Regions from separate parts of the Homo sapiens genome. Here region 1 is linked to region 2. Evidence: fine-mapped expression QTL. Tissue or cell type: whole blood. Region 2 holds a variant in brackets; the other region holds the start of a gene. All regions are shown on one strand. Distances are from middle to middle.

The links. PIP is the estimated chance that this variant, and not a neighbour inherited with it, causes the effect.
Region 1: KANSL1-AS1 starts here. The variant in region 2 is fine-mapped to the expression of KANSL1-AS1 in whole blood (INTERVAL, PIP above 0.99).

Annotation. Positions count from the first base shown.
Region 1 is chr17:46,190,990-46,195,989 of GRCh38, forward strand. It overlaps KANSL1-AS1 (KANSL1 antisense RNA 1), which reads left to right and starts at 2,584. Exons shown (of 2, transcript NR_034172.1): 1 at 2,584-2,749. It overlaps KANSL1 (KAT8 regulatory NSL complex subunit 1), which reads right to left and starts at 2,440. Exons shown (of 15, transcript NM_015443.4): 1 at 1,834-2,440.
Region 2 is chr17:46,722,781-46,728,040 of GRCh38, forward strand. It overlaps NSF (N-ethylmaleimide sensitive factor, vesicle fusing ATPase), which reads left to right. Exons shown (of 21, transcript NM_006178.4): 16 at 3,769-3,835. It also overlaps a transcript of LRRC37A2 not described here. Among named protein-coding and RNA genes, the nearest start is that of WNT3, 93 kb to the right of the region's middle. The variant G/A (reference allele first, on the strand shown) is at 2,952.

The DNA of each region.
Region 1 (5,000 bases), 530 kb before region 2:
AAATCAGGATCAATGCATACTCAAGAACCACATTTCGTATTTACTTTAAAAAAAAAGTTTCTTAATTCAAAATGTTTTTTCAAATTGAAAAAATGTCTAGTAACCTATGTAGAAAAAACCAGAAATGTACTTCGTATTTTATAAAATAGGAGTTTACCCAATTATGGGAAAAACTGATATAAAGAAACAGATAAAGGAATAACATACTTCTAAAACTACAGGATTAAAAGTAAAAATTTTCTAGATCAACACCGAAATGCTAATAAATACACTTAGCATTAGGCACAAAACAATTACTACTCAAAAGTATTCACTGTTGATAGGTTAAAAAAATAGTTTTAACTGACAACGCCTGTAGACAATTGAAATTTTCTAAATTGGTCAGACAGCATGCTAGAAAAGGAACCAAGTAGAGCCTATAGGAAAGGGGAAAGGGAAAACACACCCACTTAAGCCTTTGTAAATAGTGGTCCTTTAACTGACCCAAAAAGCAGAGAAAACAGAAATTACAGACCATCCTGACAAATGGAAAACATATTCTAACGTACTAGTTTCCATACTTGAAAGGACTTTCAAAATGAAGTTCAGTAGCAATCTATAACTATATCATGATTATGCAAGGCAAAGATTATGTAATTTTATCGTTTATTTTAAAATGTTCTCCGACTCTAAAACTAAAACAAGTAAAACGTTTTGATCTCTCCAAAGCGAAAAGGAAAGGTTCCTCTGAGCTGCAATTTAAAAATATAAACACACACCCCAAAACAAACAAAAAAACACAATGATTGCTAGCCACGTGACAAAGGAGATGGCAACACCAGGATTGTGAATGGAGGGGAGGGAGGCGAGGCTGGAGGAAGAGAGATTTCTCGGAACTTTGGGGACCGCGGCAGTCGGTCTGCCGACCCTAGGAGCACTAAACTCCAGCCCCTACGAGTTGTGCTTCTAACACCCTCAAGTACAGTTTTATTAATAAGTCACAGAAAATGCTCCAGTGACCTCCAGGATAAAGGGGGGTGGGGGGGACCGAGGAAAAGGAAAGAGAGCAATTTAAAGTGGCGCCATCATGTCACCCCTTCTCCCCTAAAGCAATCAGTAAGCAATAGTTAAGTAGCACGTTTCTCTATAAATCCACATTGGGATTCCAACATTGGAAAACGAGGATTTTTAAGTAAGACACGGGAGTAGCGCTGTTTATCGTATGGAAAACAAACTATTTGCTAAGAATCAAAAGACCGTCAGCCGGAAAACAGGCCCCCAAAAAGGCAGTTAAGATTCCAACTCACTTAAAAGCAAATAAATCCCTCTTCCTCTTTAGTTTAAAAAAAAAAAAAGTCCGCCTGAGGGAGACTACATCTGAAAACGTAAGTGACCTGAATTTACAGGCAACAAAAATAATAAATGAAACAATCAGAGTTGTGATACAAACCGTGCAACGCGCCAAGATGTGTGTTTCGAGCAGAGAAAGGCCTTTTGCAGTCAAGAGAAGTTCAAGGCGAGAGCCAGAGTTTGTTTGGGGGGTTCTTTTACGGGAATAAATCATGTTCTTCAGGCCGCCTTTTTAAATAGAACGCCAAAGGAAAAGCTGGCGAACGAGGCGGCAGCTCCTGGGGAAGGGCCCCCGCACACCCCCGCCCTTGGGGCGACTCCCAGCCCGGACCCGCAGCAGGGAAGCCCGGAGAGGCCATTTAAAGTTCCGGGGGATTTTTCTACCCTGCCCTGCCTTTCTAGTTACAACTAACAAAGAGAGAGAGAAATGGGAGCCACAGGGAGAGCGAGGAGAAGGAGAAAGGGCAGCAGGAGGAGGAGGAGAGGAGCAGCAGCAGCACCTACCACGTGATGGAGGAGCGTAGCCCGGGCGGATTCAGCCCCACAAAATGGGCGCAGTTTGCAAACAGCCCCCCGGCCTGGGCGCCGAGGGCCAGCGGCGGGCGGGGGCGCGCGACGGCGGCTCCGGCCCGGGCCCGCCGCTCTCCTCCCCCCGACGCCCGGAGCCGCCCTGACTTTCCGGGCGGGGGGGCGAGGCAGAGGGGGAGGGGAAGGCGGCGGCGGGGAGCGGCTGCTTTTTCTTCTCTTTCGGGCCCTTTCCCGGCCTTGCTCCGCACCGACGGGGCCCGAGCACGGCTGGAGACCGCAGCCCGGCCGGGAGGGCGGGCGGGCGGGGGCAGAGAGTGAAACCGCCCCCCCGCCCCGCACAAACAAGCACCGCCGTCTGCAGCCCGAACCCGCACCCAGGCCGCCACCCCCGGCCGCCTCTTTCCAGCCGGGGAGCGCGCTTCAGCCGCCCCCCGCGCCGCCGCGGCGAGACGAGTCGGCTTCGCTACGGTGCTCGGTTCTCCCGCCGGCTCGGCGAGCGGTGGCGGCGGTGGCGGCGGCACTGGGAAAATGGCGGCCGAGCTCCTTTTCCCTCCCCCCCTTTAATCTGAAGCGGAGGGAGAATGGAGCGAGCGAGCAAGCGGGCGAGCGCCGGGGACACGGGGAGGAGGGACAGCAGCGCCTCCGCCGGCTGCGGCTGCGGCGGCGAAGGGCCGCTCCACCCCGGCGCGCCGCCAGGGGGCGCCCGCCGCGCCGCCCCCGCGGGCCGCCAGGAGGCGCGGCCGCCGCCGCCTCAGTCATGGCTCCTCGCCGTGGCCGATGTTTTTGTACCTCCATCTGCGGAGGCCGCGGCGCCCGGCCCCAGCTGCCCCGGACGTGCGGCGACGGCACGCAGCACTGCGGCAGGGGGAAGCCAGCCCTCGCTGCGGCCGAGGTGAGTCTAACCTGAGGCACTGACGCCGTCACATGCCCTCCGTGCTGGGGCCGGCGGTGCGGCTCGCCAGTTGAGGGGCAGGGCGGGCCGGCGCCGCGGAGCGAGAGGACGTGAGCGAGGAACTGTTTGCACTGTGTAGTAAAGAGGGTAAGGCCGTCGGCACCACACTATTCCAAGGCTAACCCTGCAGAAAGCTCCCTGACCAGTGAAGCGGCTTCCGCCGCCCGCCCTTTGTCCCTAGCAGCCAGCCTCCGTATACTGCAGCACGGCTGGGCACTAGCCCCAGCACCGCGCTCCGCAGCCACCAGAGTTGGGCGGGGTGGGGAGGGTGCACGTAGTCACTGCGCAGGCCCCAGCCAGGGCCCGCGCCGGGCCAGCCCGGGAAGGGACAGCCGGGAGCCAGAGGGGAAGTGATGGCCCCGCCGGCGCCGGGCCCGCTGGGAACTGTAGTTTTCGTGAAGAAACACGCGTCTTGTTTTGGGTGTCATGGCTTGGCAGATCCGCCAAAACAGGCAAATGGCATTACACAATGAGTATTTATGCTTCCTGCCGCCACCAAAAGGAAGTTCACTGCCATGCTAAAAGTTTAACAAAGAACTCCATAAAGAAACACAAGTCTCACAACAAAAAGCCAACTTCCCACCTCGTTACCAGAGTTGGTTTAAAGTGGTGGCACCTTATCATTTCTCATGACCAGTTTATCAGTACAGAACTTTATATTGTCCCCAAAATAGGACCTTTAAAATAATGGAACCTTTCCTAGACTTAAAGAATTCATAAACATAATGTAATACAAAGTGTCACACAAAGTGTAATTCTACCACCCTTTAAAGTTGCCAAAAGATGAGTGGAGTATCTTGAGATTTAAAAGACTAATCTAGGATTCATCAAAACTGGCTTAAATGACTGAAGAAAAAATCGTTCAAATCATTAAATCATCAAATTCGGCAGATAAGAAGGGTATGTATGCTCTACTACCAAAAAGGAAGACGCAAAATGCTTCACACTTTTTTGTGGCTTACCAGAACCAATATCCGGCATTATACGTCACTTCTGCTTATCAAAAAACACCCTCACAGTCGTTACAGAACGGTTTTAGTCTTCCCACAAAGTTACACTAACTCACCTGCCCCTGCAACATCTGCACCTAGGTTTCTGCGAATTTCCATTTGTACTCCTAAAATCACACTCTCAAGCATAGTCATAGTTCTCAAATACCAAAGGCAGGCAGTTTGGAGTCATAGGGTCAAATTACACAAAGAATAAACTAATATTTGTATACACATCCAAAAGAGGTCTTTAGTCTTGGATTTTTAATTTACAACCCTGGGGAAAAACTTTGACTTTTTTATTGTACACACATACACACATAAATAGTAATTCCACAAAATACAGTAGAAGGGTATTGGACCAACAGATGGCGAACTAGAGCCCCAATCTGAGGCTCCTGAAATCTAAATTAGCAGAATGAAAAATACCAAATAAGGCAAAGCCCTTTGCAGCGTATACTTAAATATTAAATTCAGACACACCATAACAAAATAATCTTACTGCTGCTCCAAATTTTTAAGACTGAACTGTCAGATTTAATTAGGCAACCAAATAAGCAAGATTATATGAAATATATTTTTCTAATGGATTAGGAGAAAACTGGAAAATGCTCATTTTTAAAACCATGTATTTGGGGGAACTATAAATTCCAGTTTCCCCTTTCTCTCATTGCTTAGTGCAAGAGTCAAGAGTTCACAGGGTTTATGGCACTTAAATCAGTCAACCTGTTGTATATTCTTATCTAAAATCAGACATCTTTCTTATTAGGCATCCACTTGTACTTTTATTTTTTTGACAGGGTCCTGCTCGGTTGCCCAGGCTAGAGTGCAGTGGTGCAATCAAACTCACTGCAGCCTCCCAGGCTCAGGCGATCCTACCTCAGCCTCTTGAGTAGCTGGCACTACAGGCATATGCCACCATGCCCAGCTGTTATTTTTTTCACTCCTTTTTGTTTTGGTAGATACAGAGTCTCCCTATGTTGCCCAGGCTGGTCTCGAACTCCTGGACTCGAGTGCTGGCATTACAGGCATGAGCCACCACACAAAAATCTTATGAAGAGAAACAAATTTTCTTAAATTTCCCCCCAAAAAATAGTGGATGTCCAAAAGGCTGATTGAAAACACCTACATACAAAATAAAACAAACAAACAAAAAAAGATTTAAAGAAAAAGGCCTGGTGCAGCAGCTCACTCCTGTAATC
Region 2 (5,260 bases):
TTTAAATTAGAGCAGAGTAGCTACCCGGAGGAGTTTCAGTTGACTGGTTACCTGAAACTAGTCAAGTTACAACTGGAATTGCACAGCCTTCGTCATGGTCGGTGTGTTAATAGAGCTTGCTGTGAGTGCACCTCTCCCTCTGATAGTAATTAGCACAGAGACCGACTGCAAAAAACAAGAACGTCACTACTTGATATTAAGTGACTGCTGCAGGTATTTTTCCTCTCAAATGTTATGTGTAGGCCATGCAGTCAACTGTGAAGTGATTTGGAATGCTTTGTGAATTACAGTGTCTGAGATAAGTTGGTGAGACTACATACCATGTAGCAAGTCATCATTAGTTTAGACCTAAGCAATGTCCTGAGTAAGGTCCTTGCAGCCATATAAGCTGTACATTGTTTTGAGAAGGAAAAACATAGAACTACTGCAACCAGCCAGGCTGTGGTGTTCCAGGTCCCTGTGGCTCTAATCCATGATCTCACAGCCTGATGGTCAGAGTTATATGCTGGCATCAGAGCTTTTAGTAGAATTCTGAAAAATGTTTTGAAAAGCAAAGCATTATTTTCAGTGATTCCTTAAAATTACCTGAGTTTATAAGATACCACATTGGCTGCGGTTCCATCTTCAAAAAAAGTAGCAAAGAACCGCTGTAGAACTGCTTCTGAGCTTTTCAGTTGTCTCGAATGTACCAACTCAAAGCCAAAAGGAACCATCATTGTGTATCAAGAGACTGAAATAAATATCCTATTCTCATTTTCTCTTTTTCTGTGTTTGGGGAGGAGAAGATAAAAGGCCCTTCCCTTCTTGCTCTTTAAATGTACTCATGATCCATTTTCAAACCAGCTTCACCTCTGTGTTTTATTTCAGTTGCCAAATCAGGACAGATCCTTGACTCCAGTTTTCTCTTTCATCACCACACCCATTCATTCACCAAGTTCTTTCAGTTCCTCCTCCTAAACATCTCTAGATTCTGTCCACTTACCAGCACACCCACTCCCTGGCCACCATCATTTCTCACCTAGAACTCCACAATCTCAATTAACTATTATTCCCCTCTAATGCTTTTCTATACAATCAGGAAAATGTTTCTAAAACATAAGCCTGACATGTCAGTCCATTGCTTATAACCCTTTAGTGGCTTGTTATTGCCTTTACAGTAAAATTTTAACTCATGAAATTTGTAAGACTCTTTACGTCCAAGTTCCTTCATCACCTCTTCTAATTCATCTCACCTACCACTCCACTGCATTGACACCAACACCACTTTATTTTAATTCTTATTGACCGTTCCTGCAGTGTTCCTGAATGTTCACATCTCTGTGTCTCCTAATTTTCAGTATATTCTGCTTAGAACACTTTCTTCCACCCTTTCCACTGGTTAACTGTTGTTCATGCTTCAAGTCTCAGGTTAAGTGTCACTTCCTAAATTTAGGAAACTGTCCTGACTCCCTAAGTCCATTTAAGAGTCAAGATAGGCTGAGTTATGCTGCATGAAAGGACAACCCGAAAATCTCAGTGGCTTAACACAACAAAGTTTATTTTTTATTTACACTACTATATCTCCGTCATGGCTCAGACAGTGAGTTCTGTTCATTATATTTTCTCAGAGACTCAAGCTAATAGATAATAGAGGCCCCGCCTTACATCTGATTCCATGATAGCCAAGGCAGGGAAAGGAGTATGGTGAATCATGCAGTGACTCCTAAGGCTTCTTTCAGAAAGGGGTGTATTTCCCCTCATATTTCATTAACCAAAGCAAGCCCCATAGTTATGCCTAACTTCCAAGGCACTGGGGAAATACTGCCTACCCTGTGCCCCCGTATCATCTTGTATTTCCCCTAGCCTAATAATGTCATGCTTTGTTATAATTACATGTGACTTGCTTCCCCAACTCTAACTTTTGTGAAAGTAGGATTATTTTTGTCTTATTTATTATCCTCTGCAGTGCCTTCATTAATGCTTGATACATAATAAGAATTCAAAAATATTTGTTGAGTGAGTGAATGAATAAGGCAGCACTCCAAGACTCAATCCTTAGGCCTTTTTTTCTTCTTCTTCTGCCATTTCTTCTTGAAGATGGCTTCCTCTGTCATGGTTTCAGCAGTCACTGCCCTGAGAGTGATTTCCATTCCCTGACTTCAATCAGATATCTCCAACTTCTCACTTAATATTTCTACTTGAATTTAAAATGTGTAAATTTATTCTTTTAGTAAATACTTCTTAATTACTCTCTAATAAGGCATTATATTAAATGATATGAGGATACAGAGGTAATTAAGACAGCACTTGCCATCTGAGGGCTTGCAATCTAGTATAATACAAAAATAGTACAATGAATCAATAATATATATACGTAATATACAAAATCCTGTGCCAAAGGAGAAGACAAGTGATTTATGGCAAGATGGAATTGGAACTTGTGTTGTTTCAACCATTGAACCTACAGAGCAGACATCATTACTGAATTCTGTTCTGTGCTGGGCACTACACATAACATGAACAGAATAAAGCTTTTATCCACCTCACAGTCCAGTGGGGAGACAGATAGCTTAGGACGAAAGGATAGATGGGGTTTAGACAGAGTGTGGGAGGGTAATTAGGGGGTAAAGGGATGGTGCATAGGAAAACGTTTTCACCAGAGGGGTTGACCTGATTAAATATCTGGAGAAATTGTCAGTATTTATGCCAGGAAAGAGGTAAGGAAGGAACTGAATCAAGATGGTCACAGTGAGACTCTATTATGGTAACTTAATTGTTAGGAATACTTTAAAAACCAAGTATACACAGGTTGTTTTTAAACCTAACATGAAAAATGGTTAATATCATGAGTTTGACTTTATTTCTGTACCTAATTATAAGTCTTCAATGGTTAAAAGATACCCAGGAAGGAATATATGCCATTCCAAGCAAGATGTTGGTGCGGGTGGGGATCGGGTTTACTATCTTGGTGT[G/A]CTGAGGTTGGTTACCAACCAGAGAGAGTGGGCTGGGATGCAGAAACTAATTCTTACTCATGACACTGATGAGATTTCCTGAGCCCCACCTGTAGTCTCTGGAATAGTACCTTCATTTCCAAAAAGGCTAGTCTCAAGGCCTTGAGTACTTCTATTCAACTTGCAGATAAGCTAATTCTTCTATCTGATTTGAAATTACTACATCCTTGCCAGGCTAAAACCGTTCCTTCACTGCTTAATTTCATTCTCATTTTCTTGACCATCTTAAGACAGTGCATTCATATCTTTTGTCTGGTTTTATACGTACATCTATCTGATCCTTCATACTCAACCTTTAATTCTTTTGTAAGCTCTTTTACCATTATGGTCTGATTTGAGTTGACAGAATTCTGATCTTTCAGTGTTACTTTTGCTTAACAGAGCCACAATTCTTATAGATAATAAAATGGCATCTAGTTTTATTTTACACATCTCTTGTGGCTCCATCTAGCTCTTGAGTCATTACACTAAAGTCCTGCTCCTGACACAGATACCAGAGACCAGTGTGATAGAAGTGATGGGATGTGTCAGTTGATTAATGATCAGCTAGTCCCCAGCCTGCCCAGGTGTGACACACACAGCTGTTAGTGCTGAAAACAGCCTTAGCCTGCTCTCTGTTCAGCGGTGATCCAGTGTGTCAATTCTAATTTATTGTAGTCCAAAGTGTTGGTGTTTTCCTGTGCTTTGTTTAGTATTGCTCAAGAAGTAACTAAACTTCTTGGAAATTGTCGTAACTGTGGAGGACAGTGAGATAATAAATGACTTTGTTTTCTTTCAGATCTTTGATGATGCGTACAAATCCCAGCTCAGTTGTGTGGTTGTGGATGACATTGAGAGATTGCTTGGTGAGTCCTAACTTCTGCTGTTGTATTATCTTTGCCACATTACAGCTAATATCTCAAAAGTTACAAGAGAAAATTAACAAGTATTTATAAACTGTAAAGCAATAGAAATACCTTTCTTTGTCTTACAAGGAAATATAATGTTCTCTCTTAAATAGCTGACATCAATGATAGTATTCATTTTAATATGCCCTGTGACTATAACACCATTATAAACTGCTTTCTTGTAAGGGCCCATGTCTCATTTTGTATCTTCCAGTGTGCCCTTGCCATAGTAAATGATTAGTAATTTTCATTGATGAGTATATCTGTTATTTAGGACCTCTGAGCTCAGAAATTCACTTGTGAACTTTGACAGAACTAATGAAAGAAGGGTTTAGGATCACAGAGAAATCTGCAAATTCACTAAAACACTAAGGGCAGAAGTTGTAAGCTCTCTGCACCTCAGTTTCTGCTCTTACAAAACAGAGACTATAATCCCTCTCTTGCTTATCCCACAGAGTAATTGTGAAGACAAAAATGGGATAATAAATCTTGAAAAAATTTTGTAAGTTAAAAGTGCAGTATAGTAATTTTTAAAATATGTATTAAATATCTCCTGTGTTGAAGTGCACTCCTACAGAATACAAACATGAAGAAGACTTGGTCCTGGCACTTAACTCATAAGAAATAAACTGCAAGGAAGGGCCAGAAAGTTGTTAATTTTATTTCACTGTAAAATTAAATCAGTCTGACATAAATTCATTACAACAATGGCTCAGGAAGGGGTAATACACTCTATTGAAATGGAAACCCACCTGGTGACTTAATAACATCTGAAAATACTACCCAGTGTCTGAATAATCCCTTCTTCTTTAAGCTGTCCATAATGGTGTAGTCGTGATTTCAAGCTAACTGTTCTTACTGCATTTTTCCCATGATTTTCAGACCTGCTTTTGGTCCTCTGTTATTTATTTTTTTAAGTTTTGGCAGTGTCTGTTATAAAGCAAAGCAGGTATATCTGTGAGGTCTCCATAAATTGATAGTGGGTTTTGGGTCTGCTAGGTTTGATACATCTCAGCCCAGTTTATGGGATGATTTCTTTAAAAGCTTTTAGGCACAAACTCATAGCTCTGTGTAAATTCCTTTATCTTAACACAATTGAGGTGTGTGGTCATAGCAACACTACCATGTCAGGAATGTGTGCCCTCTGAGTACATTTCACTGGTATGAATAGTTATCATCTGTGCATGCTTGCTCATTTATTCAATAAGCACTTGCTGAGCCCTTCCTCCTCTGGTAGAAGTATTAGAGTCTCAGAAAAAGACGCTGCTGCCTGTCTTTATAACATATGTTGGCAAATGTTAATGCAAAGTAGAATGTGCCATGTATTTTGGATATTCTGTTTTTTTTTTTATTTTTATTTTCCCTCCCACTGTTCTCATCAGG